Linked DNA regions of Homo sapiens: all the other regions are linked to region 3. The links come from fine-mapping of genetic effects on gene expression. A gene starts in region 3. Each other region holds a variant in brackets. All regions are shown on one strand. Distances are from middle to middle. Region 1 has its middle 140 kb from the start of LINC02821. Region 2 overlaps PTPRB (protein tyrosine phosphatase receptor type B). Region 3 holds the start of KCNMB4 (potassium calcium-activated channel subfamily M regulatory beta subunit 4). Region 4 overlaps KCNMB4 (potassium calcium-activated channel subfamily M regulatory beta subunit 4). Region 5 overlaps KCNMB4 (potassium calcium-activated channel subfamily M regulatory beta subunit 4).

The links. PIP is the estimated chance that this variant, and not a neighbour inherited with it, causes the effect. A credible set is the group of variants that fine-mapping cannot tell apart.
Region 1: its variant is the best candidate, but not a certain one, in a credible set for the expression of KCNMB4 in esophagus mucosa (GTEx, PIP 0.70).
Region 2: its variant is the best candidate, but not a certain one, in a credible set for the expression of KCNMB4 in esophagus muscle (GTEx, PIP 0.69).
Region 4: its variant is the best candidate, but not a certain one, in a credible set for the expression of KCNMB4 in whole blood (INTERVAL, PIP 0.55).
Region 5: its variant is the best candidate, but not a certain one, in a credible set for the expression of KCNMB4 in fibroblasts (GTEx, PIP 0.76).

The regions. Positions count from the first base shown.
Region 1 is chr12:70,042,080-70,048,175 of GRCh38, reverse strand. No RefSeq gene overlaps it. Among named protein-coding and RNA genes, the nearest start is that of LINC02821, 140 kb to the left of the region's middle. The variant T/C (reference allele first, on the strand shown) is at 2,777.
Region 2 is chr12:70,539,345-70,545,440 of GRCh38, reverse strand. It overlaps PTPRB (protein tyrosine phosphatase receptor type B), which reads left to right. Exons shown (of 34, transcript NM_001109754.4): 22 at 778-884; 23 at 4,484-4,583; 24 at 5,419-5,502; 25 at 5,597-5,614; 26 at 5,735-5,816. The region is part of intron 6 of PTPRB-AS1 (PTPRB antisense RNA 1); the gene reads right to left. Among named protein-coding and RNA genes, the nearest start is that of PTPRB-AS1, 74 kb to the right of the region's middle. The variant T/C (reference allele first, on the strand shown) is at 3,585.
Region 3 is chr12:70,363,873-70,369,968 of GRCh38, reverse strand. KCNMB4 (potassium calcium-activated channel subfamily M regulatory beta subunit 4) reads right to left here and starts at 3,679. Exons shown (of 3, transcript NM_014505.6): 1 at 2,899-3,679. The coding sequence starts at 3,234. RefSeq lists silencers at 1-124, 3,624-3,863.
Region 4 is chr12:70,407,029-70,413,124 of GRCh38, reverse strand. The region is part of intron 2 of KCNMB4 (potassium calcium-activated channel subfamily M regulatory beta subunit 4); the gene reads right to left. Among named protein-coding and RNA genes, the nearest start is that of KCNMB4, 44 kb to the right of the region's middle. The variant A/C (reference allele first, on the strand shown) is at 3,235.
Region 5 is chr12:70,387,630-70,393,725 of GRCh38, reverse strand. All of the region lies in intron 1 of KCNMB4 (potassium calcium-activated channel subfamily M regulatory beta subunit 4), which reads right to left. Among named protein-coding and RNA genes, the nearest start is that of KCNMB4, 24 kb to the right of the region's middle. The variant T/C (reference allele first, on the strand shown) is at 2,359.

The sequences.
Region 1 (6,096 bases), 320 kb after region 3:
AGTATTTCGTAGCATAGAAATATAAGTTTATTTAACTATTTCCCTCCTGATGGATACTCAATTTGTTTGCTCTTAGCACATATTTCTATTCCAACATTGTGCTTTTTCTCCAGCTTCCAGAGATTAGTTCTGTAACCTCTTTTAGCTCAAAAATTCTATGGCATGAAGGAAATGAAGCATGATTAAGTCTGAAGACATAATAATTCACTCTAGATAACTCATTTATTAAGCAGTGATATAGCACCAAATTGTGAAATATACACCACCATTAAAAACACAGTGCCAAATAAACAAAACAAAAAGATCCAAACAGGTTCAGGCAGACAAATGTCTCTCTGGTAACAAGATTCTAGTTTGTGTTCACTTAAGTATGTGACTCAAAGCTCTGTGTGGATATTCTTGATTACAGCAATTTGTTTTATAATAGTTGAGATTTAACATGGCATCATGCAATGTGCTGATGCTACATGTATTATTTAACCCTAATGATAATCCTTTAGAGCACATTATTACCTTTTGTATTGCTAAAGCAACTAGGGCTTAGAGAGGCCAAGAAATTTTGACCGAGATTACAAACTAGTGGCAAGACCAAGTTTCAAACTCAAGTTGTCTGACTCCAAAAGTCCCTCTTCTTTCCACTGTCTGTCATCAATCCTTTTAACCTGGGTTAGTGCAGAAGGACCTGATGATAAAGAACAAATTCTCACCTGATGCAAAACCTCTCAACATCTGCTCATTTTTTCAGTTCATTTTTCACTTCCTTCCCTGTCCTGAACCTGGCCCTAAATTACTTATAATTCACCAATAACACATTGCTGTGAACTTTTGCAAGCACTGTTTGCCTTTTCTGGAACATTATTCTATTGTCTGTCTGGGCAATCCAGACTTATCTTTCAGCGCAAGCATCATTTTCTCCAGAAAGCCTTTGCTGTACCATCCCCACCCTCACACCTGCCCAAAATTGGGTTAGGGATCCTCCATATTTTCCCATAGTGCTTTGTGTTACTTTCCCTAAAGCATTAAACATCACAAATTGTAAATATTTGTTACTTTCTTGTTTCCCTATACTACACAATGAGCTCCCTGAGAACAGGAGCCACAGCTTATCCGTAATGCATCTCTAGCCCTAGCATAGCGTCTAACACACAGTAGCCACTTGATAAATGTTTCATGAATAAATGAATCTTAGACTAATGGCAGAAATGAACCTGGAAGTAGACTCTTTAGCTCCATACGTGGTGATTGCTCAAGACAGTCACCTCAGTCGCCCCATTGCCAACCTGTTGCCCTCCAAACTCCTCACTTCCCACGATTGCAGGAGTTGTTCTCTGTATGATAACTTAAGAAGATTGTGGCACATGTGGGAAATTTTGGAGACAAAGTCTCTAAAGACAAAACAGTCACCGTTTATGTGGAGATTTATTTTATCTGTGAAAGATGGGGCATTTCTTTATCCCACATGAAGCAGGTAGGTTAAAATGCTAAGAAAGAAAAGGGAGCTGAATTTTACTGAGAAAAAAATAAACTGATGGTAGGAGAAAAATAATGAAGGTCTCCTATGAAATGACAAGGAAAATTTATCATTCAGTAGATTTAAAGAACAAAAATCAAAAGATCCAAACCAGAATGTGTGAAGCATAAAGAGATTTTGCAGATGATAAATTGCTCTACTGTACACATTTTTCTCTTTTCAGTTACAGATTATTTGATGAAAAGAATTCGTTTATTCCAAGTTTGCCAACATAGTTTTTGTTTTAACAGTTCAAGGAATGTATCAATTTTTCCCTAATGGTCTTTGAAGCCTCAAGATATGGAAATTTGGTATTCTAGGTAATGTCTAAAAAGTGTTCATGGAACTGAAACATTCAACTTGTGTTTACTAAATATTAGGAAGAAAACAACAGCATCAGAAAGAAATTAACATATATTTCAGAATGGGCTGACATCTCTCACTGATTATCCAATTATGGTACTATTATTAAAAATAAAAGATAGTAATAATTATAGTTACTATTTACTTAGTGCTAAGCACTCTTTATAGGCTAGGCACTGTGCTAGATTCTGACAATGCAGTAGAAAGCAAAACAGATATTCCTAGCCCCTGGATAGGTAGACATTAAACAGATAATTAGAAGATATGTATATAATTATAAAGGTTAGCAAGAAGAGAGGGTTTTAAAGAAAGAATAACAGAGGAGATCTATTTTACACAGGTAGTCAAGGAAGGTCTTTTTGAGGAAGTAATATTTAAACTGGGACTTGAAGAATGATAAGAGGTGAATAGTGGTGGGAAAAGAATTATAGAAAGAGGACATGGAATATATGAATATCCTGACATTGGAAAGAGCTTGGCATTTTCAAGGAACTGAAAGGAAGGCCTACTTATCAGATGTTTTCCTTTTGGCCCGCAGATCCTGTCCTGCCCGTCCCTGCTCCTGGTAGGCTGGTGTGATTGGGGCCTGACTCAACCTGCAGGAGTGAGGTGGCTTTGCTATGTTTGGCCAATAGAAAGGACTGGTAGGAGATCAGAAGGTGGGTAAAAGGAGGAAGCTAGAAGATTCCTCCCAGTTTTCATTCTGGGTAAGGAGCGCCTCTCCAGCAGTGGTGCTCTCTCCTCTGCGGCTTTAGAGATTTTTGGCTTTGGAGAGAACATAGTGCTAACCCCCTTCTTTATTTTGATCTTAGGATAATTGGCTGGGACAAGATCCTTATTGTTTAATGACACCTCTGTGTATCACAGGGGTGTGATTGTGGTTACAATTCACCTGGTCTATTC[T/C]TTTCTAAAGGATCATAAATTGATAAGAAACAGAGAAGCTAACAAAACACTCACACATAAAAGCCCCATCCTTTTATTTTCTCCCTAACAGAGAAACATTTTAAAAAAAACTCTCTGACCCATTTCTGGAACAGCTTGCAAAACGATCAAAGTTTTGGTCAGGGCAGCCAAGGTTTTTAACAGTGACTCACGTGATCAGAAATCCACGTGGATGCAGCTGCCTGAATTTTTGTGTGTGTGTGGTGAATGATAGTAAGTGGAGAAGTCTACCCCAGGCATAGGAAAGTTGCACATGATATACAGTGAGTTGAGTGTATGATACTTATATATTTATAGTAATAGCTACCATTAACTGGGCACTAATTCTATCCCAGCCTCTGTACTAAATACTTGACATATAATGTTAAATCATCATGGTAGATTAAAATTACCTTCAGCAATGTTAGTATTATTGTCTCCATTCTAGAGAGAAGCAACTGAGGTTTGGGATATTAAGAAACTTATTTAAGATCAAAGAGATGGTAAATTGATACAAATTCACATCCGGCCGACTTTAAAATCCATGACACAATACTACGCTATAGTGTCTTCTCTTTGTCAGTAATCTCATAGTAGCTCAGTTTCACGGTGGAATTAAATATTACAAAACTATGATTTGAATTATATTCAGATTTAAGTATCTTTAGTATTTCAGCCAAGACTGCTAATATGTGACTGGTGGCAATGAGGTAGGAGCAAGAAGGCTGTTAGATACTACTGGAGTCTGCATTTATTGGGGAAATGAAATAAATCTTCGATTTTTTGAATTGTTGTTGCTTTTTAAATACAAATTCTAGATGCATTGCACTGGCCCCCCAGACAGTGATGGAGGCCGATGATGCATCCTCTTTCAGTTACATGATCAATGTATCAATGTATTCTTTATCTCAGAAAGCAGGCATGAGGGTATCTGGTGCTAATTCCAACTAACTACTGTGTTTTTCTTGAGTGCTGTGCAAAAAATCTTCTGGGTTGGGGGGTGAGTCAGCAGAAAAGGGTGCTTTGATGTTTTCCATGACGCTGGGAGTACAGTGGATACATGAGGAGCTTTATGCTTGCCATCCCTGCCTTAGCAACCCATTGCTGGTATTGCAAAAAATGCTTTGAGTTTCTCTCTTCTACTGGACTTCCCAGGACAATTCCTAAAACCCTTACAGATTAATTAAGGGTTAAAGGCTTAAGTCATTATAATACATCATACCAAATATATGGTTAACAAAAATAATAATAATAATAATAATGAAATCTTATTTTCTTTTTGTTCTTGACATGTAAAATAGGAAGAAGAAACCAGGGGAGTTTGATCATGTCTGCTGAGGGAACATACACAGGATGAGTGGCCTGACACCACACACACTAGACCTGGAATGATATTTATCCATAGACGCTTACAGAGGCAGGAAGAGGAGCTGGTGGACAGTTCCTCCTTTGCCTATCATTCTCTGGGATAGCGCAAAATGATCTAGCAGAGTGTTCAGTCCAAGCTCTGTGGGTTAATAAGCTGCATGTTTAGGGAAGTGCCAGCAAGTCCTCTGGTATGATGAGGACCTGGGTCCCAGCCTTGTTGGACTTCCCTTCTTCTGCCATCTCAGCATTCCCGGTCTGGGCTTCCTCCCAGTCACAGAGCCTCCCTGCTATGAACAGGCGCTCAGACACAGGTCTTGCAGTTTGAGGTGTATGATACATGGGACCTTGGCCTTCAGCCTTGTTCCTCCACCTCAGTGTTCTCCCAGGATGTTTGCCAAATATTCCCACCCTGCAGGAAGCCAACTCTCACTCTGGGAGGACTGCCAGGGGTTAGTGTCAGATAAATTAACCTTTACTTCTCACTGCAGTGTAAACTTAAAGACCTATGAGGACCAGCTGAAATTGAGAGTATCTTGTCAAAATGTGTTTGGCTATGTCTTTGCCAACACATTTGTCTTGGCCTATTGTATTTGTATCGTTAGCCCATTGAACAAAAATATCAATCAAAAATCTTCATTTCATAGTTCAGAGTCATTCTCTCAAACCCATCTTCTGTATTAATTCTTGGTAATATCTTTATATTCAAATATGATTTTTCCAATAGCCTTATCTTTCAGTCACTTTAAATTCCATTCCTTCAAGGATTTTGTCCCTTATCCTCCTTCAGCCACCCATTCCTATCACCACATTGTAATCTTATTTCTTAGGATCAATAATTGCTACTCCTTCATTATCTCCATTTCACTCTCTCATCTATTGTCTTTTCCCTGTAATGTTCAACTTCAATAAGACTTTGACCTTATCTGGACTTCTAGTCTATTGATCATAGTACCTTTCCCTTTTCCCTCACCTGCCTTTCAGTTCTCTTCTTTTCCAGTTTAAAATCTGTGACAAACACTATCCTCATTTCTGCGTATGGACTCTTGATTCCTTTGCCTTTCTTTCACTTTGTATTAACTTGGCAAAAAACAACCCTGTTTAAATCTAACTCTCCGCCTCCTCTGCACAGCATCTGGCTGAAAGAAAACACAGTTCTCACCGATGAGTCCCACTTTAAATTTGTGACTATAAATAACAAATGGCCTGACTGCTGCCTGGCAATCTCGCTGTACTTCTCTGGTCCATTTACCGTTCGATTTTCCTAAACAAATATTTTCCACCTTCTCCTCTCTCCTCAAACCCTCAGCAAAACTTTTTCTCCTTCCTTGTTCTCAGATAATTTCCTTCCTTCCTTCCTTCCTTCCTTCCTTCCTTCTTCTTCCTTAAGAAAATTGAAGCACTCAGAAGAGCAGTTCTTCAGACCTTCACTACACCTGTCCCCCACAGCAGCATCTGCAGCTGTATACACTGCTTTCCTGCCTCTTACTAGAGATGACAATCCATGCACCTAAGGCCCATACCTCCACGTACGTATTGAATCCAGTCCTTTTTACACATATGCAAAGACATCACTCAACAATTTTTTTTTTTTTTTTTTTTTTTTGAGACTGAGTCTCGCTCTGTCGCCCAGGCTGGAGTGCAGTGGCGCTATCTCGGCTCACTGCAAGCTCCGCCTTCCGGGTTCACGCCATTCTCCTGCCTCAGCCTTCCGAGTAGCTGGGACTACAGGCGCCCGCCACGACGCCCGGCTAATTTTTGTATTTTTAGTAAAGACGGGGTTTCACCGTGTTAGCCAGGATGGTCTCGATCTCCTGACCTCGTGATCTGCCCGCCTCGGCCTTCCAAAGTGCTGGTATTACAGGCGTGAGCCACTGCGCCCGGTCAATCACTCAGTAATTTTTTCTCCTTTTCCTAAAGCATTATTATTTTTTTCC
Region 2 (6,096 bases), 180 kb before region 3:
TAACAAATATTTCCTGTTGACAATAAATATGATATTAGAATATTTTTAGATAAAATGATCTTTAGAAAATAGTGCCAAAAGATATGTAAGTTAAAATAACAACAACAATAATATTGATATTTGGGCCACTTGACTTCTCTAATGGGCATCTCGGAATTACTTCCTCCACAACTGATCTGTCTGGATCTTCCCAAACCCCCCAGTCTACTTCTCAATAGTTTTCCCTCATGTTAGTAGGTGACACCTCCATTCTTCCAGTTGTTCCCCATCCAGAACATGTGGAATCATCCATACTCTATATTCATCAGCAAATCTTTTAGTTCTTCCTTTGATATATCCAACACTTCTCACTCACTGCCTTCATCACTACCATTCTGAATGAAGCAGTCCCACATGCTTTATTCCCATTGCTTTCCATCTTCCTTACCCTGCTCTTTTCTTTTTCATAGCACACATCTCATCTGATTTATTATATTTGTGTGTTTATTGTCTGACTTCCTCCATGAGAATGTAACCTCTGGAATGGCAGGGACTTTGTTTTGTTCCTTGCAAAGTCCCAGCTACTAGAACAGTGATTGGCGTGTGGCAGGGGCTCAATAAATATTTATGAATAAATTGATGAATGAATGCATGAACCCAGGTCTATCCGATTCCATAACTCATATTCTACCCTGCTACCCACTGACCAGGAACCCGCCCTATTTCTCCTTGAACACATTTTTCAGCTACTGTGTTCAACAACTAATTTATATTTAAATAAATCGGTTTTCTTTTCAGAATCAGCATTCGAGCTTTTACACAGCTCTTTGATGAGGACCTGAAGGAATTCACAAAGCCACTCTATTCAGACACATTTTTTTCTTTACCCATCACTACTGAATCAGGTAAGGCTAACCTTTACATCATGTTCTACCAACTGCCATGTCACCTACAAGAGCCTCTAATGGGGAGATATTGGCTGATGGTGGGGGGAACATTTATTTTCATTTGGAACTTAATCTTTATGTGACCAAAAATTGATGTGGATCAAAGGGATTGTACAACCTCTCTAGAAGAATGGATTGAAAGGGGGTTAATCTAAAAAGAAGGTGGAAGTACAGTATTTTTTTCTATTAAAAATGAATTATTTTCTAAATAGTGAGTGAAAACCATTAAAATCAAGAGTTTTCACAGGCCAAAATATAAGTTACTACAAAACACTTTCAGTTAAAAGTGAGAATGTATATATGCATATACACAGAAATGCTCAGGAAAAAAAGACTAAAAGAAAAAAACACCAAAGTATTAATGATGTGTATCTCAAAGTAATGGAAATACAGGTGATTTTTCTTCCTTTTGCTTATTATGTGTTGACTTTGTAGTACTAAAAACCATTAATATAAAAGACTGTGCATAACAATTTCTGAAAGAGACTTCTCTAGTGTGTTAGAGGGAAAGCCTGAGTAATAATAGTGGCTAGTATTTACTGTTCACCTTCTCTATGGAGACATAGTTTTAAGCATTTTACATGGGATAACTTGTCCAATTCTCATGACAGTCTTTTGAGCTAGATGCTATTATCATCCCCATCTTAAAGATGAGGACATGAGGCACCAAGAGATTAAGTAATTTGCCCAAGATGGTGCAGCTGAAATTCTGGCACTTTCTGCCCAAGCGTACAACCTCTGCACTGCCCTGTCTCTGAATACTTCCACCAGGCTGAGAATAGCATCATTTCATCACCTTCCCTCCCAACACCATCGTCTGCGTAGCCTTTTCCTGTAATCCGTGTTCTGCAATGCTTGATCTCTAGGTCTGGGAAGTTCTTTACAGCTAAAACTGTCTCTCGTGCTGCATGACAAACGATGACTCAGCCTCACAAACATTCCAATCTATTTATGCCAAATATAGGGATAATCTCCCAATTTCAAGCTAAAGGGGGATGAGAACACAGTTAAGAGGATTTAGATGTCTTTACTTATAATTTAATGTAGGGACTTTGTAAACACAATTCTTTCCTTTTTGAAATACTGTTACATGACAAAAATTGCATGTAGTCCAGTACAGGAAGACAGTAAACGTATATTCAAAAAAGGATATTAACTACATTCAAGGAAAGATGATTGTGTTGATTTGATGAGTCTTGAAAAGCAACATGGAACAAACAAATCTAAGATCTTAAAATGCAACTTCAAAAATGGGCCACTTCATAGACCTAAATTTAAGGGATAACACAGTAACACTTTTACAAGAAAACATAGGTGTAAATCTTTGTAACCTTGGATTAGAAAATAGCTTTTTAGATAGGACACCAAAAGCATAAGCTACAAAAGAAAAAATGGATACTCTGGATTTAATCAAAATTAAAAACTTGTGCTTCAAAGGACACTATCAGCAAAGTAAAAAGACAACCTACAGAATAGGAAGAAAATATTTATTTTCCAAATCACATATCTGATAAGGGCTGAATAGCATATAAAGAACTCTTACCTCACAATTTAATAATAAAAACACAAATTACACTATATATATAGTGTAATATATATATTTTTTTCCTTTTTTTTTTTCCTTTTTTTTGAGAAAGTCTCGCTCTGTCGCCCAGGCTGGAGTGCAGTGGTGCGATCTCGGCTCGCTGCAAGCTCCGCCTCCCAGGTTCACGCCATTCTCCTGCCTCAGCCTCCTAAGTAGCAGGGACTACAGGCGCCCGCCACCACGCCTGGCTAATTTTTTTATATTTTTAGTAGAGACAGGGTTTCACGTGTTGGCCAGGATGTTCTCGATCTCCTGACCTTGTGATCCACCTGTCTCGGCCTCCCAAAGTGCTGGGATTACAGGCGTAAGCCACCACGCCAGGCCATATATATATATATATTTTTTTTTTTTCAAGACGGAGTCTTGCTCTGTCACCCAGGCTGTAGTGCGGTGATGCCACCTTGGCTCAATGCAACCTCCACCTCCCAAATTCAAGCAATTCTCCTGCCTCAGCCTCCCCAGTAGCTGGGACTACAGGCATGCGCCACCACACCCGGCTAATTTTTGTATTTTTAGTAGAGACAAGGTTTCACCATGTTGGCCAGGCTGGTCTCGAACTCCTGGCTTCGTGATCTGCCTGCCTCAGCCTCCCAAAATGCTGGGATTACAGGTATGAGCCACCGTGCCCAGCCAAATTACACAATATTTAAATGGGCAAAGGCTCTGAATAGACATGTCTCCAAAGAAGATATACAGTTGACTAATAAGCACATGAAAAGATGCTCAACATCATGAATCATTAGGGAAATGCAAATCAAAATCACAAGAAGATACCACTTCACACCCAGTAGCATGGCTATAATCAAAAAGACAGTAACAAGAGTTAGTGAGGATATGAAGAAATCAGAACCTTCCATACACTGCTTATGAGAATGTAAAATGGTGTCACTGCTTTGAAAAACAGTTTATAGAAATATTAAACCTAGAGTTACCATACGACCCAGCAATTTCACTCCTCAGTATATACCCAGGAGAAATGAAAACATATGTCCACATAGAAACTTGTACATGAATGTTCATAGCAGCATTATTCATAATCGCCAAAAAGTAGAAGCAATTTAAATGTCCATCAA[T/C]GGATAAACAAAATGTGATATATCCATACAATGGACGATTATTCAACCATAAAAAGGAATGAAATCTTGGTATATGCTATAACATGGATGAACCTTGAAAACATTATGCTAAATGAAAGGAGCCAGTCCCAAAAGATCACAGATTTATGATTTCATTTCTATGAAACATCCAGAATAGGCAAATCCACAGACACAGAAAGTAGATTAGTGGTTGCCAGGGATCGCGGGGAGGGAGGAGTGGGACTGACTGCTAATAGGTACGCGGTTTCTTTTGAGGGTGATGAAAATGTTTTAAAATTGATTGTGGTGACATTTGCAAAACTTTGACTATACTAAAGACCACTGAATTGTACAACTTAGATGGGTGAGTTGCATGCTATATGAATGATATTTCAATAAAGCTATTTTAAAAATGAGGCCACTCTTACCTCTTCATAAACTCCCAGTAGCGTTACCATACCAGATAATAAAAATAAGACTTCTTAGAATAGCTCCAAGCAATCCACTGGATTTTCCAAAGCCCCAGATGCTGTGTAACATGTTTTATATAAATGAAATGGCATTTTTATCTTGGTGGCAAACTTATGGCCTTTATCTCAGGTGCCCCAAGCTTTATATACAAGTGCAAAGTCCAAAATTCCTCTATAAGCTATGCAACATTAACTTCAAAAGTATGCAGTGACACCTGGCCTCACTGCTACAGGGTGGGAGCCAGCCTTTCATCATCTTCTTAGGTGCATACTCAGAGCCTTTGGAAAGTAAATGCCTCATCGTGGGCATCACTTGAATTCTATTTGTAATAACATTACTTGGGAGATATGGCTTCAATAGCTTTCTTACTGGTTCCCTAGCACTAATTTTCCCACCTGCGTTTGTTGTTTCTATCTGGATTATTGTAGAGCCCTTGTTTGGAGCTATTGAAGGTGTGAGTGCTGGTCTGTTTTTAATTGGCATGCTAGTGGCTGTTGTTGCCTTATTGATCTGCAGACAGAAAGTGAGGTAAGTACAAAGATCCTTTTGGTGATTGGACCCACAACTTTAAAAATGCAACTGAAAATTCCCTTTAGGCTGAAAACTAAGAAGGGAAAATAATTTAATTTTTCCAGGTTAAATTGTCACTGTTTTCTCAATAAAAACAAGTCAAACTCTAAAGCCATGACTCACTTTTCTCAGCTCTTTTATATCCCATTGATGAATTCAGCCCTTACCAAAGGACTGAGGGGCCATCTATAGCTTTATTTAAAGATGAAGTGACTCCTTTTGCACAGGAAAAAAATATTTTGTGTGTGTGTGTGGTTCATATCCTCATGAAGACAGAGATGTTTGCAAATTGCATGCCCAAGTGCTTTTCTGAAATATCCTGAAAAGTGTGGTTGACATCACCATTTTGTAGTTCATATCTGCCATCCTAATTTAAGAAGGGACCAAAAAGAACCAAATAGCATGTGGCCCCAAGTGTCGTGCCTTCTTCTCTTAGTGAATTTTTTTTCTTAATTTGGCACATGTTCCTCTTTATTGAAGTCGTGTCTGGCATCTGAAATTTACTGGATTTTTTTAAAGCAAAGTTTTATTGAGAATGTGGGAAGTGATTATAACCTGTAGCCAAAAACCAGGAGACAAATCTTCAGTTTTTGCAGAGATCCGTTTCTGGGTGGGAATGATCTACTTTATTCTCTTTCCTTTCCCTCCCTCAGAGATGTTGGCTGAGTGCAAATCTGTATGAATACTGAAAAATCCATATTTGCACAAACATCCACAGCCTTACCATAAATGGAAAAATTTGTTCAAGCCAAGTATCATAATCAGAATAAAAGTTATCTCCCTTATGTTTCAGCCATGGTCGAGAAAGACCCTCTGCCCGTCTGAGCATTCGTAGGGATCGACCATTATCTGTCCACTTAAACCTGGGCCAGAAAGGGTAAGCACCACATTTGCCTTCGTATAATTTGTTGAAAGATGGTATTATGTGAAATTTGCTAACAAAGTCTTCCTCTTTTGGCTTCTCTTCACAGTAACCGGAAAACTTCTTGGTAAGAGAGAGAACACATTAATTACTATATTATCTGCCTTTGAAATATGAGTCAGAATAGTTATGGCACTTTCCCTTTTCTGCAGTAACTCTTTTCTGTTTGTTTCATTTTTAATTACAGTCCAATAAAAATAAATCAGTTTGAAGGGCATTTCATGAAGCTACAGGCTGACTCCAACTACCTTCTATCCAAGGAATACGAGGTACAACTCAGGCAGAATGAAGCTTCAGCATCCCTAGTTCTTAGCAGAATTTCCTTCCTAATGTTTACTGTGTCATCATAGGCTGATTGAGCTCAGAAGTTAGGAGGCTGCTTAGAATCTCAGCTGAGCACTCTTTTATGCCTAAACTATGCCCTGAATAGAATATACCATCTAATCTTAGAGGCCAGCTTGAGCTCCAGAATAACACAGCAAACCAAGGGCTACCTGGATCAGATAGTAAGGAAGAATTAACAAATCTCAAATGCAGACCTAAAGCTGT
Region 3 (6,096 bases):
GAGATAGTGCAGTGACTGGAATAGTAGCAAGAGGAAGTTGACCCCGAATTTAGATTTTGCTATGGTTAATCCACAGAGATAATCTCCCTGTGGACAATTTGTTGCCTTGAATACTCTATTACAAGACTGGATATAGTGATTGCTTTAGACAATAAGGATATGATTCAAAATACAAATAAATTCAGTAGGAACTCAAGGTATTTTAAAGAAATTATTAGTCAAAGATCAAATTTACTCACAGTATCTTCTTCAGCAGCTTATGGCTTAAGAAATTCTGTATTTGCAATGTATTCTTTCCCTCTCCTGCCTCTTACTGTAATTAATGCAGGAAACTCAAGGGAGAGGAAAAAACTCCTTATTCTATTTTTTCTAAGAAGTGATTTCCTAAGTGGTTTCTTGTGTTGGTGGGTCATGAAGAAAAGCCTGGAGGCGGCTGGGATTCAAGACACTGTTGGGAATCTAGACATTCTACAAAGAAACAGAGGGGAAGCATAGGCCTTCAATAAAGAGGTAAAGTAAGGCAAAGAAAAGATCTAGGCAGCCAAGAGCCAACAGGAATGGACAATGGGTATTGCCTAATTGCAGGGACACTGTGGAAACACTCTGCTTATGTACATGACTCTGGCATAATATTTTTATTACATTGAATTTTTCCATCACACTGCCTATAAGAATTTCCAAATTGAGAATTTATTGGTCAAAAATAGAAAGGTGATGCTAAAGAACAAACTTACAGTCTATAAATGATACAACATAATTATAATCTGGATAAAGAGATATAAATTGGTTTGGCTGAGAAAACCTTGACTAAAATGAATAGGATGTTGTCCATGACTTCTGTAACATAAATATATTCTTCTCCAGTTCTGTCAGTTCCTGAATACTTTACTTTATAAAATGTATTTTGTTCAGGTACTTTTTCAAAACAACTGTTGCCAAGATCTGAACTGGCACTGGAAAAAAAATGATTATTTTCAGGGGAGAGAGAGATAAAGAAAAGAGAGAGGAGAAATTTTAGTATTACATAAAGCATTGGGATTGCTTCTAGGTAATTTAAAAATCAACGTCCCAATGATTTCAATTTACTTTTTCTGCCAGATACTTCAAACTGCCTGAAAATTGTGAAGCAGTCTTTTTGTAATAAATTATAATTTGTCCTTGTCTTGATTAGATATTAGCCATTTATTAATGTGTGTGTGCATATATATGTATATATAGATATGAAATTTATTAGTGCTTGAACCACTATCTTAAAATAATTAGCAACGTTTCACCAACTATAACAACTTCTAAATGATGAACTGCCATATAATTTCTAAATCATTACTACTGGTTGGCACTCATCTTTGACATTATTGATTTAATTCTAAAAAAAAAAATGTTTCTAAAACCCTGAGATTTCTTTTTAAATTCCTGAGCATTAAGAGGATCAAGTTACAACATTTGTCTTTGAGACGTTATCACCTCTTCAAGATCTTTAACATTATACTCCAAATTCTATATTCTTAGTCCTATATTTACTGCTTATGTATTATTGATATTTTTTAAGGTAAATCAATATTCATTTGTCGACAGGAGCATTTTTTTTTTGAGAGGAGTCATTCATATTTTTAAAAAGAAATATTTTCTAAATGTCTCAAATTCAAGAATTTACTGTTCAGGAGGTAAGACCACAAGTTTTATTGCAGAGTGACGGTAAGCTGTTTTAAATACTATTATAATATTAATGTAGAATTTTTTTCTTTTGGATTAATATAAATATATCTTGTTAGAGTTAACAGAAAGTTTTCCTGTGAACACAAGATGCATTCCCTTTTGGACTGTTTTTCTGCTTGATCCCTCAAAAAAAGGAAAAATGTCAGTAACTTTTAAAAAGATACATACCTTTGATAGTTAAGCAACAAGGAGAGCAGAAAAGATCAAGGGAAGTAGAAACGGAACCAGAACCAGGTGCACTACAAAGCTCAATTAGTTCACAGGCTAAGGACACTGCTTTTTATAAGTTATTTTTCTCCATTGGGAACAGTTTTCTGAGACTTCCTCTCTCTGCTCTCCATCCCGGGAGTCCTAACCAGGTTTTATCTTTTTTTTTTTTCTTTTTCTTTTTCTTCTTGCTTGCTTTCGAGACCAATAGAAGTTGTCAGAGAAGTCATATTAGGTACATTTCACTGAAGGTTTTCTATTTTCAGCAAGTTTTACTGTTCTCCAGACGACTCCTGACTGTCCCTAAACACAAAGGGTAACTAGGCTCCCTGTAGACTCTTTTGAGAATCTATTTCATGAAAACTAGGAGCCCTCTGTACTTCCCAAAATGGACCCGCAATATTCCACATTTGATTCCGGGTCGTTTGTCAAGCCACAAAAGCTTATCTTTGAACCCCAAGTTGAAAATGCCTATGTAGAGCGAAAAGGTGAGGAACTCTCTCACAACTTTCGAGAGTCCCCTCGACCTTTCAAGGAAGGTCATTCCATCTGAGTTCTAGATGAGACCAGCTGAAGCTCGGACCTTGACCGTGAGCTGGAGTAGGTGGATCCCCGCTAACCACTGGCTTTAAATGGAGGAAAAGTTAACTTTCTTGGCTCCTTGCACTTCTCCAAACCCAGTCCGGTAGGCGCAGGACCCGGACTGGGTCGAGGCCTCAAAATCTGAGACCAGGCAAGACAGGTTTTAAAGTAAGCCTCTGGGCACCACTGGTCGCCGCGCGTAAACCCACCTGAAAAGACCGGAGCCCTGGGGCTCCCTGATGTAGTCATTCCTGGTTTGAGCACAGCCTGCGCCACCTGGTCTCCTCCTAGCAATGCGAGCACACGCCGAACCCTCCCCGCGCGGAGTCTAACACCGACGCTGCCTCCAAACCTCCCTCGCGGGGAGCCCCTGGGTGCGCGGGGCGTTCTTACCTTGGGGTTGGTCAGGAGCTGGTGCTCGTCGCTGTGCAGCAGCGCCCTAGAGTTGGACTCAGAGTTGTTCACGTAGACCTGGACGCAGGGGTACTGCGAGGTGCCCCTGCAGTCGGCGCCACAGGTGAAGGTGCACTCGAACACCTCGCCGATCTGCTGCACCGACAGCACCGTGCAATTGGCCTCCGTGGCTTGCAGATCCTGCAGCGCGGGACTCAGCCAGCAGAAGCCGAAGATGAAGAGCGACACGACGCCGGAGATGATGAGAAACAAGCCGAGCCGGATGCTCTTGTCCTCGGCTTCCGTGTACTCGTAAGCCACCCGGAGCTTCGCCATCGCCCCCCACTCTCGGCGGCTGGCGTGCTCCCCCCGCCCCCTCCCGCCCCCGGCGCCGAGCCCGACTGCCTCGGGCGGGAGGAGCCGCCGCCGCCACCGCCGCCGCCGCGCGACAGCAGGGGAGTGGGCGGCGAGGGGGAGCGCGCGAGAACAAAGGGGCCGAGGCCAGCGACGCCCCCGGCGGCGGCGGCGGCAGCGCCCCCCAGCCCCCCAGCCGCCGCCTGGGCCCCGCGGTGCAGCAGCCGCTTCAGAGCCTCCTGCACCCTCGGGCGCGGGGAGCGCACGGACCGCTCCAGCTTCCAGCGCCCCCTGCCAGCCTCCGCCCCCGCACTCTCCCCGCCTCCCCCACCCCGCCTCCTCTCGTCGGGTGTCTCTCTGTCTCCATCGCCCGCTGGCCGCTACTCCGCTGACTCGCCCGGCAGCTGCCCCAAGGCTAGGAGTGTCTGAGCTGGGGCGAGCCCGGGGGCTCCCCCGTGCAGGAGGAGGCTCCGCCCCGCCCCGTCCGCAGCAGACCCGGGCCCTTCCGCCCCGCCCCGCTCCGCCCCGCCCCGCCCGGGGGCGTCTCCTTTGGGCGAGGGGCTGACGGGCACAAGCGACAGCGGCGACTTGCAATCGGAATCTTCGCTCACTCCCCTTAGAGGGACGTCCGAGATGAAAGATTAAGATCAATTTAGCTTAACCGGAGGGAAGTTAAAATAATAATAATAATAAGAGGGGAGGGTGGAGTTCAAGTGGAGCGGCGGGAATCTTGAACTCCAAACGAGTACTGGTCACCTGCAGGGAGAGCGGCCAGGCTCCGGGCGCACCCCGGGAAGCGGGCACGGGTGGCGGTGTGGGAGGACACGAGCCGCCCAGGCCGGGCGGATCGAGGTGAAAGCCCCAGGCTAGCGGTGTGCGCTGGGAGGTCCCCGGGGACGACTGAATCGCAGGTTCCCATGCCACGGGCGGGCTGGCGCGCGGTGGTGCCGGAGGCGTGACCCAGCCGCGCCCACGCCGCCAGCGGCTGCGCCCAAGGGAGCGCAGTAACCGTCCAGTCCCAGGACTTGGGCCTCCTAACCGTCTTGGCGCAGACCCGCGCCCCCTGACCCTGCTGAGGCCGGGAGGGCTGCAGGATTGGAGTTAAACAAGCTGAGTCAGGTGGAGTTTGCTGTGGAGGCAATGTGCGTGGGGGCAGGAGGCTGGACGAAGGAAACTTGCTGCTTAGGTCGTCGGTGACCCTTGTGGCAACTTAGGTCTCTGGCAGCCGAGTTGACCCCAACTTGATTTGCCCCCATGGCTGGGGCTGACTGAGACCAAAGGAAAAAGGTGGAGAGCTTTGCAGCCTGGAAAGAAATACCACTTTACCCATCAGAAAAGTACTCTTGCTTTGGGGCTCGCAAGAACAGAATCATTTCTGTCGTTTCCCTCCTTAGGAGTCTTGCCACCCCTGACCCGCCCCAGGATTTGTAGATGAGGTTTCCAGGAGCGCTGCTTAAAGCGACAGCGCCGGGCAGACCCACTTTGGGACAGGTACTGTTTCTAGACCTGTGTTCTGCTCTTAATTCTTGCCGTTGCTCCCTCCTCCCCCAATTACGCTAACAATGCTTCAGCCTCTATTGTTTTCGCGACCTTTTTAAAGTTAGAATGACCTTTTCCCAAACTACACTTTTATCATAAAATCAAACTTGAGAACTATTTATATGTACATTTCGAAGAATAAAATCAGAATATTAACTTCCTTGCAAACTACATAAACTTTTTTTGTTTGCTTGTAAGTCTCAAATGAATAAACTCTTAATTATGTTCCTGATGAATACGGAAACATGGAATCATGGAATTCTTGACTTCTCTTTCCTGGACTTCAAATGTTACTTAACTGGTATTGAGTACCTTTCGACTGCAGTTCTGATAACGTTATTTTGAAGCACTACATTATGACAGGTAACAAGTATTTCCCAGCAATGGGCAAATTAATTACAGGAAGATCCTAAGTGTCTTTTTCTCAATAAATTAAGAAGATGTAGAGTTTGAAAAACGTCCAAATTAGGAAGATGCTTTGTTCTCTAATACCTTTCAGGTTTTGAGATTTTCTTTTTTTAATTTAAATGTAAGAATTGTATTCTTTTCCTGTTAGCATAAAGACAATTGTGATTACATTGCTTAAAAGTGAGTTTAATAATTGAAATAGCATAACCGAAAATCACAAATCTTCAATCTGAATCTTTTTCCTATTGCAGGAAAAATAAAAAACATAGGAAATAATCTTTTTTTTCTATTGTTATAATCTTCTTTTCCAAGAAAGGAAAAGCTATGTCTAAGATCTGAAGCAATGATGAACAAATAACAAGATACAATTATTCTAGCTCAGTATGTTGAGGAACTGAAATGAGGCAGAATTAATTCCTATTAATGCACAGCAGTTGGGGGACTACCAATAATTTAATGAATATGGTTCGTTTTTCAATGATTCCAGAGCTCAAAGTCTTCTGTGAATGAAACCTCTGCCTCAAAACTGAAGTACGGTGGTCTAAGTCTAGGGAACAAAATCAGAAAATTCTATCTTATTTTAACTGAAATTCTTGAAGTTTTAAAATTCATTTTCTTTCAGTTCTGCATTTAGTCAATTTCTTTCTTGGCAATTATTCTTAAAGTATTTAAAGAAACTTGTGTCTTCTGTTCTCTAGACATTTTTTTCTCCTGTTTCCTGTTTTTAATTTAGCTTTTCTCTGAACACTTTTATCTTCACATCTTTATTGAAAGTCAAACGTATTAAGACTTCACAAATTAAATCAATTTCTATTTTATTCTTAATGAAACACTGGAAGTGTTTATTAGTTTTACTTACTTGAAGCGGAGCTGCTTTATCACATTCCCAAGGAAGAT
Region 4 (6,096 bases), 43 kb before region 3:
GCCACAGCAATCACTGCTTTTTTTAAAAAGTACAGATTTTGGGACCAAAGAAAGCCTTCAACTCTGATGTAATCTCTCTTAATATGGAGACAGACACAAATGTATATGGAAAATACTTGGTTTCGGTAAGATTCCAGATTTACTGTTTTGTTTTTTAAGATACAGGATATATCATTGGGTTTAATGTCTAAAGAAAAAGCCAATATGTTCCTGTAAAAAATAGCCTTAGAACCAGTCTATTCTCTAATGATAAGACTGTAAGAAATACTTCTCAGAGTAGAAGACAAAAATAAGTAATTTTTACCAAATATCAAACACAGTATTTAGTAATTCATTCCAATGTCAACAAAATTTTCCTCTGGAATTTGTTCCAAATCTTAGGTCCCATCTTTATATGCACATTTTCCCCATTTGTATACTAAGAGGTCTGCTAGTAAAAACAAAGTTTTTTCTTTAGTAATTTGCTCTATAAAAAAGCCAAAAGAAAAACTTAGAAGCCAATGGTACAATTAAATTCAACATATAAATATATTAAAATAAATCTTTTTTTGAGCTTGCATCTGTTTTTAGAGCTCAATCTGTTTTTAGAATGCAAAGACGTCCGGAAAATAAACTACAACTGACCAATCATTTTTCACTCTATTGGTTATAAACATATTCAGATGCCTATTTCTAAGCATGTAAGTGTTGTCTGTCACACATAACAAGAAATCCAGAGGTAGCATGGCCAGGGCAGGGGCAGCTATTCCACAAGAGTGCCAGGAAGCTGGCTCTTTTTGCTCCACTCTTACTAATGTGTAGATGTCCACTCTCCTGTTTATCACCTCAAAGCTGCATGATGCCTTTTGCTGTTGTGGCATCAGAAAGCAGGAGGCAGCAGCACTCACATCAGAAAAGCAAAGGCTTTCCCAGAACATTCCAGTTAATGGTGCCTCCAAAACAGTTACCCAGGACAGAAAGCCAGAACTGGATCCAATTCCATCCAGTTCTTAACCTCAACCCCTATCAAGCATCATGTACTTCTCTAAATCTGCAGATTCCACTTCCTTCAAGTCCTATGTCCATTCCTCCTTTTCTTCCTCCACTAATTCTACCTTTGTCCAAGCTCCTACCATCCCTTGTCTAGACTGGTACAACAGTCTCCAAATTGTTCATGGATCCTCCAGCTTTGGCTTCTATCAATCTACCCTCCATGCTGCCACTAGACTCATCTTTCTAAAACTTAAATGTGACTGTCACTCCTCCACTGCCCTTAAGACAAATTTAAACCCCTTAGCATGACATACACGCACAGTATTATCTATTTCAACCTCTTCAGTTCATCTACCACTTTCTTTTTTCTTTTTTTAGACAGGGTCTCCCTATGCTGCCCAGGCTAGCCTTAAACTCCTGGACTCAAATGATCCTCCCATCTCAGCCTCCCAAGTAGTGGGGACTACAGGTATATGCCACTGTTCCCAGCTTGAGATGGTAGCATTTTTATGTGTAAAATTTAGGACACTAAATTACAAAAAGAGTAACAACCATGATACCAGAGTGATAAGCTATTCTGTGGCGGCAGGAAGATCTCTGTAGCCCCTGAAATGGGCTTGCTTCACGGAGAGGAAATAGACATTTACAAAAGTGAATTTTCCAAATAATTAAAGCTTAAATTTTAAGTTGAATAAAAACTAATAAAATATTAAAATATTATTGGTAAAAATCTTCCTAAAAATGCATTACACATTTCTTTGCCTTTTAAGGAGAGTAGGTTGAACCAAATTTAACCTTTTTTGATGACTCAGTGTCATCATTATGAAACTCAATTACCGTTGAGGTAGCAGGGCTGTCTCCCTCTCCATTAAATGGCTCTAGACTGTTAACCATTTATTTCTTTACTAATTGCCTCTCCCTTTCACCATTAGGATTTTATCTAGCATCTTAAGTTGTTGTAATTTTGTACAAGTCTTCAGAACCAGGGAATCATAAAACCATAGAATTTGAGAGTTTGAAGGAATTTTAGAGATCATTTCATCCATCAGTCTATCAAATTTTATAGTTAAGAAAACTAAACCCTAAGTAAGTGAGCAGTCTTTTTCTAATCAGTTGCTTTTCATCTTCTATTTTAATGGCTTTAAAACTGTGTTCTGAAGAAACCACTACTCAATTTGAGCTCAGGCCATTATGTTTATCTTTCTTTAAAATGCTAAGGGTAAACTGGATTTAAAAACATATGCTACAGGATAAACACACTTTGAGTGAACTTAGAAATTAGGATATATCTGTTAGCATCAGGAGTACAACATATTTAACAACAGAATTTCTTCTTTCTTCCTTTTTTTTGTGTTGTTGTTTTACTCATTCATAAAACCCTCATTATTTATTTATTCAACACCTCAGCCTCCAATCAGTAAATAACCAGGCCCAACTTTGTTTCTAACTTAGTTGTTAGAAATCTACAGAGGCAGGGAAGAAAAGCATATGTGTTTACTAAGTATTAGCTATGGTGCAAATGTGTTTCTTACAAAACCAAAACAGAAGCTCTTAAGATGGGTAATGCTATCCTCATTTTACAGGCGAGGAAACCAAGATGGAGAAGCTGCACAATTTATCCAAGGTCGTACAATTAATCAGTGATAGAGGAGAAATGTAAATCCCGATGCTTGATGTCACATGACTGCTGCCCTTAAGGAATTCATAATCTATAACAACAAAAAAGTACATATTCAACTCTCTTAACAGTGTGATAAAAGCAACCATGGCAGTGTGGGACTGCAGAAGAGGAAGTAATGAATTATACCTGAAAAGGTGGGAGAAGGTTACACAGTAACATTTGAGGTGAATCTTAATAATAGTAATAAAAACAATAATAGCAAACACTTTTGTAGGAATTATTGTGGGTTAGGCACATGCCATCTCCTTGATATTATATCCCACTTCTGCAAAGGAAACTGAGGCACAGATAGATTTAAGTAACATATCTAAGACCACGCCACTAGAAAGCGTTTGGTTCTAGAGTTCATTCTAGGACTACTGTGCTGTGCTAATTCCCAGAAGTAAAAAAGGTGAAGGTGTCCCCAGGTGAGGAGAAAGAGACAGGAGCAAAGGCATCAAGGTGTATGGGAAACAGAATGACTCGAGGTGACTGATGCAGCTGGAATAAAAGTTAAAATATGTAAAGCAGACCATATTACCACTCTGCTTAAAACCAACGACTGGCTGCTCACTACATTTTAAGAGAAATCTAAGCCCTGT[A/C]TAGTTCTTGCTCCACTCTCCCACTCATTCACAGTTCTCCTGACACACTGGCCTTCCAGTACCTAAAACCACCAAGCTCTTTTTTGCTGCAGAACATTGGCACATGGTAGTATCTCATTCTGAAATATTCTCCCCCTAGCTTTTTACCTAGCTAATTCTTGAACATCCTCTGGTCTTGACCTAATTTTAATTTACACAGAAAGGTCTTTGAAATTCCCCATCATGCCGTAATATCTCATAGCAGCATCCTCAGCTTCCCCTTCATAGCACTACCCTACTTTGTAATTATACTACTGTTGTGACTACAGACTATAGGCTCCATGAAGGCAAGGACCGTGTCTGCTATTTTGTTGTTGTTTTCTTGTTGTTTTGTCTTTGGTTTTCCTTGACTGGCACATAATTCAATGGCAGAAGTTTAAGTTGGAATTGGAAGAGCATGGCCTTTATCCTATAGATAAGAAGAAGGCAGAAAAATTTAATCAAGGACTGTGACAAGATCAAAAGGAGGCTTAAACAAAGCAAAACAAAACCTAGCGTGGTGTGGATGACAGACAAGAGAAAGACCAAGGCTGACAGACTAGTTGAGGATGCCTTCAACAAGCCAGGTGAGAGCCTGAATCCAGGCAGTGGTGGAGGAAGTGAATTCAAGAGACTGCACAGGTGGTGTGGCTGGATTTGTTCATTTGACGTGTGTGTTTGTGTAAGCCTGCTCCGTGTACTCTGTGACCTACTATCCAGAGGTATAAAACAAAGTACTAAAAAGTAAACCTGTATAGAAAAACTCTATGCTCTCCAACAAGAGGAAAAGATAAAAAGACTGATCACTCCTTTTGGCCTTTAGATCCAAAGGGAATTGAAGAATGAATAGTTATTTTCAAAGGGACAAGCCCTCTTCAAGGAGAAGCCAGTTAAGGCAAAGATGAAGAAAGGAAATTGTATGAAAAGATTGAGAATACAGAGAAGTTTTCTGGCAATGAAAAGGGGGTTTCAAAGTATACTCGTTAAGGGGGTATAAGTTAGGTTTTGCTGAGAAGGAATAAGCCAGGGAAAGACTGAGAAAAAAAATGAAAACATGATATAGGGAGAATTGTGAACTTACCTGAATAAAAAAGTGTAAAAACAAAATCTACACATTTTGGAAGGAGACTGAGCCTCGAGGTTAAGGGAGGCAAAGAGTGGAAAGGTTATATGGGAGGGCCACAAATGGACTCAACCCTTGGCATGAATTCACCCCAGTGACGCCTCTGCAGAATCCTTCCTGGGTGTAGAGAGGGATGGCCGCACCGAGACTGACTGCCCACGGCAGGCACAGCTGCTTCGGGGCTGCTTCGGCCGCTGCAGACTCAACACTGGAATACAGCTTGCCTCAACAGGACTTAACCAGTGGAAAGCTAAGACTCCTCTAATCTTTGTCTTAGATTTTTAAAATAACACCCTTTTCTTGAAAGTCAAAACTGGACTATTCTCCCTAATTTCCTGCATTTGAGCGAAATCGAAAGGTTTCTTTAAATATAAAGTTCATCTTTTCAAGAGCATCTGGGAGTCCCTACAGTAAGTCTATTTTAATTTCATATTTAGCAGTAGTAAAAAGTGTACTAAGAGTAGATGGCACCAGGGAGCTGCCATTTTTCACACCTCCAAACAGCACTCCTGTTTCCTCTCACATATGTCATGGTAAAAGAGCCAAACTCCGAACGCCTGCCTTCCCAGAGTCGCTGAAAAATCCTGTCTTGAGTGCTGCTGGGCTGTGATAGACCACCCCCGCTTCTATCTACACCCCCACCGTTTGGGAATGGGACAGTGAGATGATGGATAGGGAATGTGTATCCGTTCTGAAGGAGGTATAATGAGCTTAAATTTACTGTACTGAAGTTAACACAACTGCTATAGGTGACATAATAAGAAATTTGTATTTGGTCTCTGCCCCGGTTCCTGGCACAGAACTTGTAAAACCCTTGTAATTTCCTGAGTAGTCGGGGTGAGAGGAGAATCTTCGTTTTTTCATAGTAAGCCCCTTTCAACCATGCCCAAGTTTATACTAGTGAGGTGACTCTTGGAGGATGGGGACCGGTTGTCAGAAGAACCAACCATGTGAATAGAGGATTAGAATTCAGCACCACCTCAGGCTGGGCGCGGTGGCTCACGCCTGTAATCCCAGCACTTTGGGAGGCTGAGGCGGGCGGATCACGAGGTCAGGAGATCGAGACCATCCTGGCTAACACGGTGAAACCCCGTCTCTACTAAAAATACAAAAAATTAGCCGGGTGTGGTGGCGGGCGCCTGTAGTCCCAGCTACTCGGGAGGCTGAGGCAGGAGAATGGTGTGAACCCGGGAGGCGGAGCTTGCAGTGAGCAGAGATCAAGCCACTGCACTCCAGCCTGGGCGACAGAGTGAGACTCCATCTCAAAAAAAAAAAAAAAAAAAAAAAAAGAATTCAGCACCACCTCTCTCTAGCCACCTCTCCAGGCAAGGGAGAGTTGGCTAGAGATCAACTCAACCACCAAGGGCCAATGCTGTAATCAATCGTGCCTATGTAATAGCCATAAAAACCCTAACAACTCCAGAGCTCCTGGGTTGGTGCATACATCAAGGTGCTGGGAAGGTGGTGTGCCTGGAGAGGGCCCCTTGCTCAATGCATCTCTTCCATCTGGCAGTTCCTGAGTTGTGTCCTTTATAATAAACTGGAATAGTAAGTAGTGTTCTGTGAGCCATTCTAGCAAATTATTGAATGCAAGGAGGGAGGATGTGGGAACCCCTGACTTAGAGAAGGTCAGCCAGAAGTACAGGTAGATAGCTGGGACATGCGCTTGACATCTGAAGTGGGGGTCATCTTGTGGGGCTGGACCCTTTAATTTGTGGGAT
Region 5 (6,096 bases), 24 kb before region 3:
CCTCCCAGAGAATACACCCACGCTCCAATGCATAGTTTTTTTAGTTAGAATTTACTATCATATGTTGATATGATATCTGGATTTTTGGAATTTAATAATATTCACTTAACTTCTGCATTCAGGCAGACTGCTAAGGTTGGTTATATTATTAAGACTGAAAAGTTCGGCATGGCATTCCATCTTCAAAATAGTTCATTTAGTTTTAGAGTTAGAAAATAAAAACACGGCGGGGCGTGGTGGCTCACACCTGTAATCCCAGCACTTTGGGGGGCCAAGGCGGGTGGGTCACAAGGTCAGGAGTTCAAGATCAGGCTGGCCAAGATGGTGAAACTCCTTCTCTACTAAAACAACAAAAATTAGCTAGGCATGGTGGCAGGAGCCTGTAATCCCAGCTACTTAGGAGGCTGAGGCAGGAGAATCGCTTGAACCCGGGAGGCAGAGGTTGTAGTGAGCCGAGATCGCGCCACTGCACTCCAGTCTGGGCGACAGAGTGAGACTCTTTCTCAAAAATAAAATAAAATAAATAAAATAAAATAAAAACACACAGTCTTTGCCAAAAATAGAAGTTGAATCCAAATAGAAGCAATCACACCAAAACAAGAAATTTTAATCTGGAAGAAGTTCAATAGTTATTAATAATTATAACAAACATGACAGGGCCTATAAACATTTGTTTAATAACTCCTGATCAGAATTTAAAATCCTGAGGAGATGGCCAATACTCTTTCTTTAAATTTTATTATTTTTTTATTATATTTTATGGGATACATGTGCAGAACATGCAGGTTTGTTACATAGACATACATGTGCCATGGTGGTTTGCTGCACCCATCAACCCCTCATCTATAGTAGGTATTTCTCCTAATGCTATTTCTCCCCGAGTTTCCCACTCCCCAACAGGCCCCAGTGTGTGATGTTGCCCTCCCTATGTCCCTATGTTCTCATTTTTCAACTTCCACTTATGAGTGAGAACATGCAGTGTTTGGTTTTCTGTTCCTGTGTTAGTTTGCTGAGAATGATGGTTTCCAGCTTCATCCATGTCCCTGCAAAGGACATGAACTCATCTTTTTTTATGGCTGCATTAGTATTCCATGGTGTATACGTGCCACATTTTCTTTATCCAGTCTATCATTGATGGGCATTTAGGTTGGTTCCAAGTTTTTGCTATTGTGAACAGTGCTGCAATAAACAAACGTGTGCATGTGTCTTTATAGAATGATTTATAATCCTTTGGGTATACACCCAGTATACCCAGTATACCATTTGCTGGGTCAAATGGTATTTCTGGTTCTAGATCCTTGAGGAATCACCACATTGTCTTCCACAATGGTTGAACTAATGTACACTCCCACCAACAGTGTAAAAGCATTCCTATTTCTCCACATCCTCTCCAGCATCTGTTATTTCCTGACTTTTTAATGACTGCCATTCTAACTGGTGTGAGATGGTATCTCATTGTGGTTTTGATTTGCATTTCTCTAATGGAGATGGTCAATACTCTTATGACACTGAAATGAAATAAAACTTTCTTAAATGTTCATGCACACATTCAGATGGCTTCATTGATGGCATTATTTGTAGCTATATTGTGTACTGTAAGGTACACAAATTCAATGTGTGTATGTATGGATATATATACAATGAAATATTACAACCATCATTTCTGCATGAAGGGGATCAACAAGCCCTGTCTATTGTAAGTCCTCTAGAACCAGTATGGTGATGATAAAAAAAACTGGTGCTTCCTATTTGTAGCAGAATATGTTTTCTAAAGAGAGCTGCATTAATATACATCCCATTTCACATACTCTTACAATGTGATGTTGGCACTCCTCAATTGAGAGGTGGAGGTCTAGCTTCTCTTCCTTAGCACATAAATGAGCCATTGATTACAGCAATGATTCAGTGTGACTTCAAGGTTAGATCAGAAAAGGTGATAAAGCACCTGCTTGCATCTCTCTCGAGAATGCTCATCCTTGGTCTCCAGACAGTATTCTACAAGGAAACCCAAACTGGCCCATAATGAGAGATCACATGAAAGGCCTATGTGGAGAGGACCTCAGACTATATTCTTCTCTGTGTCCTTTATAAATTTCTGACCCACAGAATTTGTGAACATAGGCCAGGCGCAGTGGCTCACACCTGTAATCCTAGAGCCTTCGGAGGCCAAGGCAGGGGGACTGCTTGAACCCAGGAGTTCGAGACTAGCCAGGGCAACATAGCAAGACCCTCTGTCTACAGAACATATTTTTTTAATTAGCTGGGTGTACTGGTATATGTCTTTAGTCATAGTTAGTCAGGAGATTGAGAGGTGAGGATAGCTTGAGCCCTGGAGTTTGAGGTTACAGTGAGCTATGA[T/C]TGTGCCACTGCACTCCAGCCTGGGTGACAGAGCAAGACCCTTTCTCTAAAAAAAAATAATAATAAATAAAAAATAAAAGAATGTGTGAACATATGAAAAATGACTTGAGCCACAGGGATCTTTGACAGTGGCTGAGATCACAGGACATCTAAGATTAAAATAAATAGATAACCTTCTAAGGTTCTTCTTTATTTACATACCTGAAAGTATAAAAACACTTGAGGTTTGATGAAATGAAGTCTATGAGTCACTGTGATGTAAGGTAGGACTCCTCAGCCAATCCCAGGCCCAAAGCTCCTTAGAGGAAGGGTGAGGGGGCTGGTTTATACTTAAAGCCCTTGTGGTAGAACCTCAAGTCCTACCTACTGAAAATCTAGCCTTTCCCAGCAGAACATGCCGACATGTAGCAGAGTAGTATAGAGCAGAAAGGGCAGATATTCAGAATAGTATTGAACACTGGCTCTACGCTAATGCTAATCCCTGGGGACTCTAAGTACACCTGTGCTTAGAATGAGAGCTCATGGGGGTCAGGGGAAAATGAAGTTTTGGTCCAAGTTAGTGTCACAATAGGCCCAGGGAGTCCATGAACTCTCTTCACGATTGTTCCTACAGATCCTGAAAGTATAGCGTCTTCACATTTTGGAGGAAACATATACTGACATTTGGGATTGCTTCTCTGATCAATATACTGAGTAACCCAGAACCTGCCAGCTTTCAGTAGCAATCAGAGCAGGAAAACCTGCTCAAGGCTACAGAGCAGGAAGCTGTCTCAATTCATCTCTATGGCTCAGTGGCTTCAATAACAAACAAGAGTCTATGACAGATCAGCGGATATATGGAGCCCAGAGAGAGCCCTGATGGTATAAAGCAAACCCATGCTTTCTTTGGCAAGTGACTATTCTCCTTTTGAGAAACAAGTGGTTTGTTACTGGGTCCCAGTAGGGTCTGAATGCCTGAACATGCAACATCAATTTACCATTTTACCCACTGTATGCTGGGCTATTTTGACTCACTAAAACATAAAGTTGGGATTTACAGGGCTGAAGCAGGACTTGTTGGCAAATAAATTTCAGAAGCAAATGGCTCACACTCCCAAGGCACCTTCTCTTTTTATACCACCACCTGCCCCATCTTGTGCTAAAATGCAGTTGTTAATCTGGGTTGGTTTTCCTCATACTGGGATATACAGACCCCAAGGAATACTCTGCAGTGTGCCAGGAGGTTCTTAAAGCCTATGATCAGTTTTGATGGATGAGCAAATTTGAGCTCATTGAGCATAACTCTGGGCAGAACATCTGATTGTTTATTTCTCTTGAAAGAAATGATGGAGGTACAGTCCTACAATATTTTATGGACACTGGTTAACAAATAGTAAACTTGTTTCAAGTAACATGATTAGAGTGTGTTAAATCCTCAGAAATAGAACTCTGATCTATACATGGGCCTACAAATTCTATTTCCCATTCACCCATTCTCGGAAAGCTATTTGAGGATGTACTCCAACAAAACAAAGAAATAAATTAAGAAAGAGGAAGGCATGGGATCAAGGAAACAAGGTACTCAACACAAGAAAGATGCAGCAGGCCTAAGGTGCATCCAGTTCAGTATGAGAAGTAGGCAGATGGGGCCCAGCAAGGGTGTCCCACGAAATTTTTATTTGATCTTATTTTTTTGACACAGGGTCTCACTCTGTCACCCAGGCTAAAGTGCAGTGGTGTGATCTTGGCTCACTGCAGCCTCAACCTCCCAGGCTCAAGTGATCCTTCTGCCTTAGCCCCCCAAGTAGCTGGGACTACAGGCACATGCTACCATGCCCAGCTAATTTTTGTATTTTTTGTAGAGACAGATTCTCAATATGTTGCCCAGGCTGGTCCCAAACTCCTGGGCTCAAGGGATCTGCCTGCCTCAGCCTCCCAAAGTGCTGGGATCCCAGGCGTGAGCCACCATGCCTGGCTAAGAAATTTTTAAAAAGAATGAGAGAAATGTGGAACTAAATGACTACCTATTGAGAATGGTCATATGACAAACAGTATACAAATGGGTTTTACAATTCTGCAGGAGAATTTTGGAAAAATAAGAGAAAGGTACACAGGAAAGGTACAGGAAAGTAAGAAAATAAAAAAGGGAGATGATTCTTACCTCAAGGAAAATAAGTTATAGAAGTGAACAGTACTTTACATAGTTAAAGTAAGTTGAGCACTCAATATTAATTTATCCAAAAATTATGATAGAATCATATTTATTTAAAGAATAAAGAGAGGAAAATGGGGTAGGATGGTGTGGTGCAAGAAAGCTAAGTCCATATAATCCATCATAGGTGGTCAACAGTATCTCAACTGCATACATCAGAAAACCTATTGTTTAGAAACACAGAGGTAAAAACCAGAAAAAAAAAAAAGCCCTAAAAATAGTTAAAACCAGTTATCTCTGGGTGGCACAAGGGTTTGGAGCAGTGGAGTACTACTCCTTACCCTCAAATAAAAGTACAGTGCAATTTGATTTTCAAAACTATGTTCATAATAACAAGAGCAAACATTCACTGAAGGCTTACCATATGCAAGGAACTATCCTAGGAGCTTTCCATATATTAACTCATTACTCCTCATAACCCAAGGAGACAGGCTCTATTATAATTCTCATTTTACAGGTGAGGGAACTGAGGCACATCTGAAGTCACACTGCTATTCTAATTAAAAATTAATAATCAAGACATACAAATGGCAAACAGGCATATGAAAAGGTACTCAATATCACTGATCATCAGAGAAATGCAAATCAAAACTACAATGAGATATCATCTCACCCCAGTTAAAATGGCTTTTATTCAAAAGACAGACAATAACAAATGCTGGCAAGGATGTAGAGAAAAGGGAATCCTTGTACACTCTTGGTGGGAGTGTAAATTAGTACAACCACTAGGGAGAACAGTTTGGAGAACAGTTTTGAGTAACTAAACTGGAGAACAATGTAGTTACTCAAAAAACTAAAAATTTAGCTACCATCCGATTCAGCAATCCCACTGCTGGGTATATACCCAAAAGAAAAGAAATCAGTATATCAAAGAAACGTCTGCACTCCTGTATTTGTTGCAGCACTGTTTTCAATAGGTAAGATTTGGAAGTGACCTAAGTGTCCATCAACAGATGAATGGATAAAGAAAATGGGGTACATATATACAATAGAGTACTATTGAGCTATAAAAAAGAATGAGATCCCATCATTTGCAACATCATGGACGGAACTGGAGATCATTAAGTTAAGTGAAATAAGCAAGGCATAGAAAGACAATGGTTACATGTTCTCACTTATTTGAGAGATCTAAAAATCAAAACAATTGAACTCATGGATAGAGAGTAGAAGGATGGTTACCAGAAGCTAGGAAGGGTAGTGGAGGGCTGTGGGGGAGGTGGGGATGGTTAATGAGTACAAAAAATAAAAATAAAAAGAATGAATAAGACCTATTATTTGATAGCACAGTAGGGTGACTCTAGTCAATAACAACTTAATTGTACATTTTAAAATAACTTAAAGAGTATAACTGGATTGTTTGTAACTCAAAGGATAAATGCTTGAGGGGATAGATTCCCCATTCTCCATGATGTGCTTATGTCACTTTGCATGCCTGCATCAAAACTCATCTCATGTACCTCTTAAATATATATACCTACTATGTATCCACAAAAATTAAAACAATTAAAAAAAAACAACACTCCAGGCATGGTGGCTGACTTGAGGTC